2 separate regions of the Homo sapiens genome follow, and region 2 is linked to region 1. Evidence: fine-mapped expression QTL. A gene starts in region 1. The other region holds a variant in brackets. All regions are shown on one strand. Distances are between the middles of the regions.

Evidence for each region. PIP is the estimated chance that this variant, and not a neighbour inherited with it, causes the effect.
Region 2: its variant is the best candidate, but not a certain one, in a credible set for the expression of ARMH4 in breast (GTEx, PIP 0.51).

The regions. Positions count from the first base shown.
Region 1 is chr14:58,149,163-58,154,545 of GRCh38, forward strand. It overlaps ARMH4 (armadillo like helical domain containing 4), which reads right to left and starts at 3,051. Exons shown (of 8, transcript NM_001001872.4): 1 at 2,913-3,051. RefSeq lists silencers at 2,586-2,775, 2,876-3,095, 2,989-3,283, 3,176-3,245.
Region 2 is chr14:58,094,894-58,100,276 of GRCh38, forward strand. ARMH4 (armadillo like helical domain containing 4) reads right to left here. Exons shown (of 8, transcript NM_001001872.4): 5 at 1,831-2,088. Among named protein-coding and RNA genes, the nearest start is that of ARMH4, 55 kb to the right of the region's middle. The variant T/C (reference allele first, on the strand shown) is at 3,260.

The sequences.
Region 1 (5,383 bases):
TATTGTATTTACTTAAAGCTGAGCTTATAAAGACTCTCACTCTATTAACCCAGCTGTGGCAAATGGCATTAAGGTACCACGTTTCTGATTCACTGTGCTACTGACAATCATCACTGGTCTGTTATATTGGCTTTAGGATCTAGGCTGCAGCTATACTTCACCATAAATTAAATAGCTGAATGACAAACAATCCTTTCAGCAGCATGTTCCATCACAATGGAAGGAGGGAGAAGGAGTAAGTAACCACAAAGAAAAGCATGGTCCCCCAGGAGGAAAGCAGCCCCAGAGCTGGCAGGGAAGAGGGTAAGTAGGCTGGGGTCAAAATAGCTAAATTACTGGAAACTAAATACCAGTAAAAAGTACTTTACCATCCCTGAAGACCACACCTAAGTTCTACATACTGAGCCCAGGAGCTTCAGTCTCTACAAATTAGTGATGTAGACAAATGAAGATATCCGTGCTTATCACCCCTAGCATATCATCTCATCCCTGGTAAAAGGAGATGGACTTGAAGATTTAAAAACAGGCTTCTTCGAGTTCCAGTTCTACCTTAGGCAAATCACTGAAACTCAAGTTTTCTTGTTGCAAAGTAGAAATAATAATGCTGGTTATATTTTTTCAAAGGGTGGAGAACACACACAAAAGTGATAATAGACATAAAAGCAGTTTGAAACAAAAGTAAATTATCATGCAATAGAAGACATACTAGCATGCTACTGACATGCATTCCTGTCAAATACAGAAATGTGAGCAATTTGGAGCATCTGTAACATCAGCCACAAATGGAGTAGCATTTTTTTCCCCAAGGTACTTTCATGGAGCTTCTCCTTTCAGCTTTATCATGTAGACAATGTGACCTGAGAGGGTTCTGCTGTCTGCAGAATCCTATCCTGATGAATCTTGATCAACAAACTCTTCTCCATCCATCAGACAGTTTATTTCAGTGACCCAATTGGACATATCATTTCTGGTTTTTGTGGTACACAAATGTAGCCATTTGCTTGGCTAGATCTCTAAGTAGCTGACATTTAAAGGGAAGCTGAAACTAGCTTCAGATACTTCTCTTATAATCACCAAGTAAACACAATATGGAAAAATAAGATTGACCTCACATCTTGCTTAGGGAATGAGTTTTCATTTTACAAAAATTAAAAGCAGTTTCCCTCTGCATAGACAGCTTCCCTATGTGAGAAGTTTTTTAAGTTCAATTAACAAAAATACAATTCCATACACCACTTTTCAGACAAACATCTACAGAATAAAGGGCAAAGGACACCTTTAGGTGGGGAGTGGACATTTTCCACAGCAGATAAACCCGTTTTCCTCATTTTGATTCTACACTTATATTTAGCATCGAACCATTTCCGTAATACCAAATTATAATATTGTAAAGGTCTGGCAGGAAACTCCGGAATATGTAGTAAGAAGCCTCCCATGAAAACAAAGACAAATTCACATCTCTCTAATTGGCTCCGTTGCTGTAGCTACCTTAGACTTGGTGAGCCTTGGGAGTTTCTATGAATAAACTCAACTAATATCAAATCTGTCTGCTGCACAAGTGCTCGGTTCATTATTGTGACAAATACAAAAAAAAAACCACTTTATTCATAAGAGCAAGTCAGAGTACCTTTAAACCTCTGTGTGTAAAAGAAGCAATGTTCTGATACTGTGAAACCTTAGCCGGTTGTGTGTTTCAATAGATGCTACTGTGGGGTTCTACTGGCATACGTGCCGAAGTCAGTCAATGACTGTAGATGCTTGGCTAAAAGGAGACTCCCTGGAGCCCAACAGCATCACTTGTGATCAAGGAAATACACCAAAATAAAGAGAAGGCATGTGAATTCTGACCACTCAAGAATTTTTGCCCTTTGGAGAAGAGATCCTTCAGAACCCTAGGGATGGTTTTGTGAACCACTCCCCACTCCCCCTCAAGTTTCAAACTAAAACTTCCAAAGAAAGAAGGCAGACACTTTAAAGCAGCCATCTCTCCTCTCTTCCACATCAGTTCTGCACTGAAATTGGATGCCAAGTGCTAGGCGGATCCTCGGGATCATCTCATCTTTGAGAACCCAAACTCTTAAGGGTCCTGTTTTGTTCACTCCTGCTTGCCTCCTCGCCAGCCAAGGTTCTACATGTTTGGAATCTACACAAGTCAGATTCTGTCAGTGACCACGAGGCACATGAGACATTTGGGCACCTCCGGCAGCACCTCCCAACTATTCCGGAGTCTCAAGCAGAGCCTCGCCTCCCCCAGGTCTAACCCGCAGGCCCTCTTTCTAATTAAGTGACCTTTCCAAGGAGCGTCCTCCAGCCGCGTCCTGGGGGACGAGTCAGGGGCTGAGCAAGGAGGCTCGACATCTCTGCGCTAAACACTCAACTGTTTGTTTTCTGCAAAGTGGCAGGACATATTTCGGTGGTGACCGCAGCAACGATTCGCTCCTCGATTGTTAGGCTCTGAGTGGCATTGGGGACACTGCGATCGACGGTTTGAAAGGAGTAAACCGTTGTTTTCGGGAACTTCTCTCTCACTGCTGTGGGATTGCGAGCGGAGGGAGAAAGAGAAAGAAAAGCCCACACAAAAGCAGCCAGCCCTGCAAGCTCCGCCAGCACAAAGGCCGGCTCGCTGGTGCGGAGCTGGGAGGCTGGGCTGGAGCTAGGAGTGCGGTGAGTCCTCCGAGGCCTGCGCGCCGCGCCCAGCGCGCCCAGAGCTGCCCCCGCGCACCCCACACCTGGGCACCGCGCTCCGGAGGAGGATCGGGGCGCACGCCTGGCGCACCCAGGGCTGCAACGCTCCCGGGACTGTTACGCTCGCGGAGCGACCCCACGCCACTGAGGCTCCGGTTCCGTCCCTGCCCCGGCGCCACGTCTGCAGCCGCGGCCGCCCAAGTGGCCGGAGCCGGGCCCGTCCTCACCTGTGCGCCTTCAGCTGAGCAGCGCGCGGAGGACAGAGGCAGCGGCGGCGCGGGCGCTCGGCATCCCAGCGGCGGGCCCTGCGGCGGCGGCGGCGGTAGCGGCGGCGACTCCCTCCGCTGTCTGGGACGCTAGGGGGAGGGCGCTTCGCTTTGTTGCTTATTCATAAGGCCGCGGCTACGGCCGGGGATTGGGCGGTGAGTAGGTGTGCCCGCCCTGGCTCTGCTGGCACTGACAGCCGACGCCGTCGCCCACGCCCCCCTGCGCCCACTTCCCCGCCTCCGCTCTCCCGCGGGGGCGGCTTCTGCTGGAGTCCCGGCACCTGGGACCCCTCGGAGATCCCGTGCTCCGCTTCCCCTCTTTAAGCGGGAGCTTCTGCGGCAGCTCGCCTCCCTATCTACGCGGAAGAGACCAGGGCACCGTTTACACGAGAAAAACCTCAATTTTGCTGTCTTTGGTTCAGGCAAGGAGCGCAAATCTGAGACTGCAGTGTTCCTTGTGGAAACTATGGACGGCTTGGCGGTGCCCTTAAGTAGGACCCTTAAAGTAACTCTACACAGAATGTCCCTTCTCAGTCCGTCGGAGAAGTTGCAAACTAGTGCTAGTCACAAGTAAGGTTTATTGAGCCCTTACTCCTGCCAGGCACAAGAGTAGATGCTTTGCCCATTACTTTACCTGCTTAATCTGCACGATAGAAGGGTAGATATTGTAGTTCTCATTTACCAGGGTAGGAGGTTAAGGCTAAGGGCTGTGTAACTTCTCCAAGGTCATCCGGCTCGCGTGGCCACCGGGAATTTGTGTCCTCCATTCTTGAGCCTCTCAAGGACTGTTTTCTTTTTCTGTTACTTCTAATGGTGTGGAAAGAGGTGTCGGAATCTAAAGGCCCGTTTTGGAACAACCTCCACAACGCAGCATTTTACATTTGCAGAGCACTCTTCACATTTGTCCCTTATTGTGCTTATTAGCTCCCTTCTTCATAATACCTTAGTCCCCTTTTGTAGTTAATTATAAACACCTTGAAGTCAGAGCAAAAGCTGGCTCACCTTTGACCCCCACACCTAACACAATGCACAGGTATGTACTGGTTTCTGTTTGTTTGTTTGTTTGTTTTTGAGACAGGATCTCACTCTTTCCCCCAGGCTGGAGTGCAGTGGCGCCATCATGGCTCACTGCAGCCTCGACCTCCTCCTGGGACCTCAAGCCATCACCCACCTCAGCCTCCTAAGTAGCTGGGACCACAGGCATGCGGCACCACGACTGGCTAATTTTTTATTATTATTATTATTATTATTATTATTATTATTATTATTATTATTGGTAAAGATGGGGTCTTCCTATCTTGCCCTGGCTAGTTTCAAACTCCTGGACTCAAGCGATCCTCCTGCCTCGGTCTACCGAAGTGTTTGAATTATAGACATGTGCCACGGTGCCCAGCAGGTATGCACTGTTACCCATTCCCCCTCCCTTTAGAAATTATTATCTATGTATAATCATGCATTGATTAATTAGGGGAATACATTCTAAGAAATGTATCCTTAGGCAATTTTGTTGTTATGCGAGCATAATAGTATACTTACACAAACCTAGATGGCATAGCCTACTACGTACCAAGGCTATATGGTATAGCCTATTGCTCCTAGGCTACAAGCCTGTACAGCATGTTACTGTACTCAGTACTGTAGGCAATTGTAACACAATGGTATTTCTATATCTAAACATTGAAACAATACAGTAAAAATACAGTATAAAAGATAAAAAATGGTGCATCTGTATAGAGCACTTACCATAAATGGAGCTTATAGGACTGGAAGTTGCTCTGGGTGAGTCAACGAATGATGAGTGAGAATATGAAGACCTAGGACATAACTGTACACTACTGTAATGTACGTAACCTTACACTACTGACATAACTGTATACTATTGTACATAACTACACTACTGTAGTTATGTAGGCTATAACTGTATGCTACACTACTACTGTAGTGTAAACAATGTACACTTAGGCTGTACTGTAGACATAAACATTTTTTCTTCAATAATAAATTAACCATAGCTTACCTGAATTTTTTACTTTATAAATTTTTTTTAACTTTTGACTCTTTTTTTCTTTGAGACAGGGTCTCACTCTGTCACCCAGGCTGGAGTCCAGTGGTACAATCACAGTTCACTGCAGCCTGGACCTCCTAACCTCAAGCAATCCTCCTGCCTCAGCCTCCCCAGTAGTTGGGACTACGGGCACATGCCACCACGGCTGGGTAACTTTTGACTCTTTTGTAATAACACAGCTTAAAACACAAACATATTGTACAGCTGTTCAAAAATATTTCATTTCTTTATTTCCTTATTCTATAAGCCTTTTTCTATTTAAAAAACAAAATTTTAAAAGGCCAGGTGGGTCATGTCTGTAATATCAGCACTTTGGTAGGCTGAGGCGGGTGGATCACCTGAGGTCAGGAGTTCGAGACCAACCTGG
Region 2 (5,383 bases), 54 kb before region 1:
AAACTCATCAAATCATAAGCTTTCAGTGGGTGCAATTGTGTATAATACATACCTCAGTAAAGCTGATTCCTTAAAAACTTGACTCCTATTCAGTGGTAAATTTGCATTGAGGAGCATGATAATACCACAGCCCAAATGATCATTTTAGCCTTGATTCAGAGCCTCCTTATAGTTTTCTAAGACCCTCTAATTACTTATAATTACTCAAAGATGGTAAGTCCACTTCATAAGTGGTGAGACTTCATTTCTTTGATCACAATCCAGGGTAGATGCCATATGATGTTCCTAATTCTGTGCTAAGGCAACCCTGTCTCCCTCGCTCCTCTCTCCGGTAAAGTACTAGAGCATCCGAATATCATCCCATCCATACTGAAAGGCTGTTTAACTGTACATGATACCTCCATAGTATAAAGCTGTGCACAACCCGAGGAGTCACTTTACGTGTAGATTTGTGTCTGTTTTTAACCTGTTCGGTATAAATTATCTTTGTATTTTGTATCTTATTTCATTCATTTCAAACCTGTTCATGTAGAACAGAAGCATTTCAGACTAAATATTCATTCACTTGTTCACAGACCAGAGATAATCTTATTTTGTGTTTGTTTTATAGTATTTTGATATTATAATGTTTTGATACCCTTATAAGTTTTTACCAGTTTCATGTGACATGTTTTTAAAGTAATCATTGCCCAATGCATGCTGAATTTGGCCAGAAAGTAATTCAAGAAATCTTGTCTGTCCACTGGAAGCCCATCCCTTACTATCTTCTCTCCTTCCTATAGCATATTACACAGGAAATCCCAGCTACATGTCAACTACAACCTGTATGCCAATCTATAGAGTGCAACTCCCAGAATTACATCCAGAGCAAAGGCCCAGACCAACTTACAAGTTTTCAATGACATATCCCCAAAACTAGTATTTGTACCAGTTTTTCTGACTCTTAACCCTAACATCTGCCACACTGAAGGAATCAATGGGCCTAGCTGTTAAAGACTAGGAGCATTTTAGAGAAGAGTTTCCTTGGAGAAGAGATTAATTCACCTCAGGTCAAGGGAATAGGGCCTCAAGGAGTCACTGAGAGCTTAATAGCGTCTCCCCTGACAAGAGGAGAGGGACAGACTGGGGAGCTTCCCTGTCGATGTGGAAGGAAGTGCTGAGCTGAGGAGCGGCCTGCATCCTCCAAGTCTCTCACCACAAGCACGGGCCATGAATAAGAGAGAGTGAGCATGGAGTGGTCTGGCCACCCTAGCTGCTGAAATGAAATCGTGTTTGACAAGGTAATGCAGCCACAAGTCTGAACAGAAAAATCATGGGACTGCCCAACTGCTCACCCACAAGCAGGGGAAGAACTTCCCCTAGGTAATAGATTCCCAAAGGACAGAGCGGAACAAAAAATGCATTTGTTCTTCGACTCTGTCCCATGGTGCTGCTTGTCCAACATCCTGGTTACACGTATCTCCTCCCTGTGCGGATGTCCTCCTAAAGCCTACAACTGTCTCCCAACTGGGAAGGAAAAACTGAATTTCTTCCAAACATCAGGCAACTGTACTCATAATAGGCAGCTGGAGACTGTTTGGAGCCTGGCTACTTAAGGGCATAAATATAAACTCATCGAAGAAATAAGTGATCATTTTTAATTTTTAATTATCAGTTATTTCTTCGGTGAGTTTATACTTATATTCTTAACCACCCATAAATGTAGAAACCACCCATAAACAAAGAAAATCCATTTTTCTTTACAATAGATGGCAATGAAAGAAGGCTGTCATCTGAGAAATATAAAAGGAGGGGAGAAGGGAGGAAAAGGGAAATACACATGACTCTTACCCAGGCCTTGATTCTGCTGTTCCCACTCGAGGGCATCTGGCACCTGGTAGGTAGCTCCCTCCAACAGGTCCATGTTTCCCTCCTCTAAGCCTGGTTCCTGGGATGTGATACCAGGGAGGGTAAAACCTGGCAGCTCAGTGTCACCATCCAAGCCCTCATCCAGCGAGTCTGCATCTTTATCTTCCTCATCTTCTTCCTCATCTTCCTCTTCTTCATCTTCATCTTCTTCATCCTCTTCATCCTCATCTTCTTGTCCCTCTAGGCAAAAAGAAATCAAAGGGAAGCATAAACATATAATGAGTTTATGCTGAAACAAATGAATCCTTGGAAATGATCCAAACACTACAAAATAATTGTTTGGCCTTTTGAAACACATCTTTATAGCCAAAGTCAGACAATGTGAACTTTGCAGGATTATACACCCACCATATGTCCTAGAGTTTAAACTTTCAAAACCATAGTTATGTCAGATAAGTATCAGGTATTATGTTTACTGGGAGTCAAAGTTCAAGTAATATGATTTGTTATTAAAGTTATTTATATTTACAAGGGTAGTAAACATCCCCTTGCTGTTTTCTGGAGATCATTAAAAGTTTATCAGTTAGCACACTGTGAAATACTAACAGAACTTAAAAGAAGCTGTTCCCATCCCTTTATAGCTCATAATGTTAAAGGAGACAATTCATTATTTTGGCACAGCTTTTTCTATTCATCCACATCAGTGAGTAGAACTCACAAAAATGGTAAGTGAGGAGCACATAAATTCACTCTTGGATCTTGTTCTCTCTAAGGAAGAGTAATCCAAGAAACTGGAAATAATTGCATCAACATTCTCAATCCAACTCTAAAGGAATTGGGAAGTGGGATATTCACCAGGAGTGGTCAGAAAGGCAGCACATTAAAAATTACCATTATCTTCATTGTAAGAGTTAACATTCACAATTCGTCGTTTTCTTGATTTTTTTTTTTTTATTTTTTATTTATTTATTTATTTATTTTTGAGACGGAGTCTTGCTCTGTCACCCAGGCTGGAGTGCAGTGGCGTGATCATGGTTCACCACAGTCTCAGACTCCTGGACTCAAGCCATCCTCCTCCCTCGGCCTCCCACAATGCTAGTATTATAGGCGTGAGCCATGGCACTTCACCACAAGCTGTCATTTTCAATGCTCCAAGTGGAGTGGGTTTAAGGAACATATGATTCCCAATTTCATTTTGTTTCACCAATGTTAATTTCCTAGTAATACTTCAAGGCCCCATCCTCACCATGGATGCACCTCTGAAGCCCCTGGTAAGTGCCCACAAAGTTCACAGAAGGCCTTCCCTTTGCTCTCTCCCCTTGACTCTCGGCACAGCAGTTACTGCAACAGGTAATTCTCCTCCTATGGTGGAGAAAAGAAGGGAAGAAGAAGAACTGGAGCCACCCAAGAA[T/C]TGTGAGACTCTCCTTTTCTGCTTCTACACAACTTTCTCCACCCATACTACCTTTCCTCTATCATTCAGAGGCTTTTTAACTTTTAAAAAAAATCACCTTTAATCTTTTTTTATTCTTATATGTCCTTTAACTTTGTAGGATTAATGTCTGTCACTATTCTAAAAATTCAACAAATATGTATCAACCCCCTAACGGGTGCCGTTGCAGACACTAGGGATAAAAGCAATAACGTCTCTGCCTTCGTGGAGCCCATGTGCCACCCAGGGAGACTCACAGCAAACAAACAGATACACCAATAGGCAGGTGACTCTACACTCTCATTAAAACTGGCAAGAAGATAGAAAACGCCAGGCACTGCTATTTTAGAAAGGGTGATTAAAGAAAGCTTTTCTGACAAGGTAAAGTTTGAACAGAGGCCACACCAAAATAATGCATTCTTTTGTTTAATTTAAGTCAACATCTACAGGAAGAGCATTCCCAGTGGAGGAAATGGCAAGGACCTAATCCTTGAGGCAGGTGTGGCCTCGCTGTGTTCAAACAATGGCAAAGAAGCCTGGGCTGGGAGGCACAGGGCAAATACAGGAAATGAGGTAGGAAGAAGTAGGCAGGGGCCAGATCTGACTTTTTTTTTTTTTAAGTCTTTTATTTATTTCAATAGGTTTTTGGGGAACAGGTAGTACTGACTTATATTTTTAAAGAATGACTCTAGCAGCAGGGTGGAGAACAGGCTATATCAAAGCAAGAGATGAAAAAAGAAGGCTGACAAGGAGTCCACTTAAAAACCAGGAATAGATTATGGTGCTTTGGACTAGGGTACAATCTGGAAAGAGGAGAGAGGTAGTCATATCGGGGATGTAATTTCAAGGTAGAACCCTGCTGATAAGTACAATGTGAGATGCAGGAGGAAGATCCCACATGACTGAAAACGGGATCTAAAAGATAAGGAGTCAAAACAAGAATTTGCATTTGAGATACAGTAACTGTGTGATGGCCTATGGCATCCAAGGGAATGTTGGAAGTCTAGGGAAGTTTCAAAGCTAGAGATAAATTTTGGGAATTGTCAATTTATTAATAATATTCAAAGCCTTGAGACTGGCTGAGATTATCAAGAAGGTGAATATAGACAGAAAGGGAAATGGTCCAGACCACATTCCCGGGCAAAGCCACCACTTAGAGGGTGACCAGCAGAGGAAGATCCACACAGGAAACAGGAGTAACCACCAGGGTGGGAGAAAATCCAAGAAGTGTGTGGTGTCAGGGAAGGCAAATGAAGAAAGCGTCTCCAAGGGCCCGAGTAAGAGACTGAGGGTGTCCCTCTGGCTTGGACATTGGGAGGGCACGGGGGACCTTGACAAAAGTTGTTTTGGAGGAATGATATAGACAAAGGCCAGGTTGGAGTGGTTCAAAAAAAGATTAGAAAAGAAGACACAACAAACAAACAAAAAATTCTTACCAGAAATTTGGCTAAAAGGAGAACAGAGAAAATAGGGGGCAGGTGGAGAGAGACACAGGGTCAAGGGTAGGGTCTTAAAATAGAATATAGAAAATAGAACCTGCTTGTAAGTTAATGGGTCAGATCTCATCGAAAGGGGCAATCAATGAGGCAGGAAAGACAGAAGCAGCTGCGGGAGAATATCCTGGGAGACATGGTATTATACAGTGGCTGCATGCATAGACTCTGAAGCCACACAAATTTATTACGGCTGTGTGATTTTTGCACACGTTGCTGAATTTTGCTGTGCCTCAACCTCCTCGTCTGTAAAACTGATATTATTCCTACCTCACAAGGCTGTTGTAAGGATTTCATTAGTTAATTTATAAGGTACTTAAAACTAAGCCTGGTGCATACTGGACAGGTTGGCTTCTTCATAATGACTAAAAGAAGACAAGGTCCAGTGCACAGGCTGGTTTGGATACATCCTCCCCTGAAACGGTAGGAAAAAGGGAAGGCAGAGAAACAGGCATGGTGCAGGAAGGTGGGCAGATTTGGTGGGTAGGGGATCTTTATATTTCTTTTATTCTCGGTCAAATAAAAAAACTGGAAAGGAAAAGAGAAATGTTGGTGGTTTGAGGTGAGAGGAAAAAGCGTGAAATAGTCGTCTTGGAGAGTAGGCGAGTACATT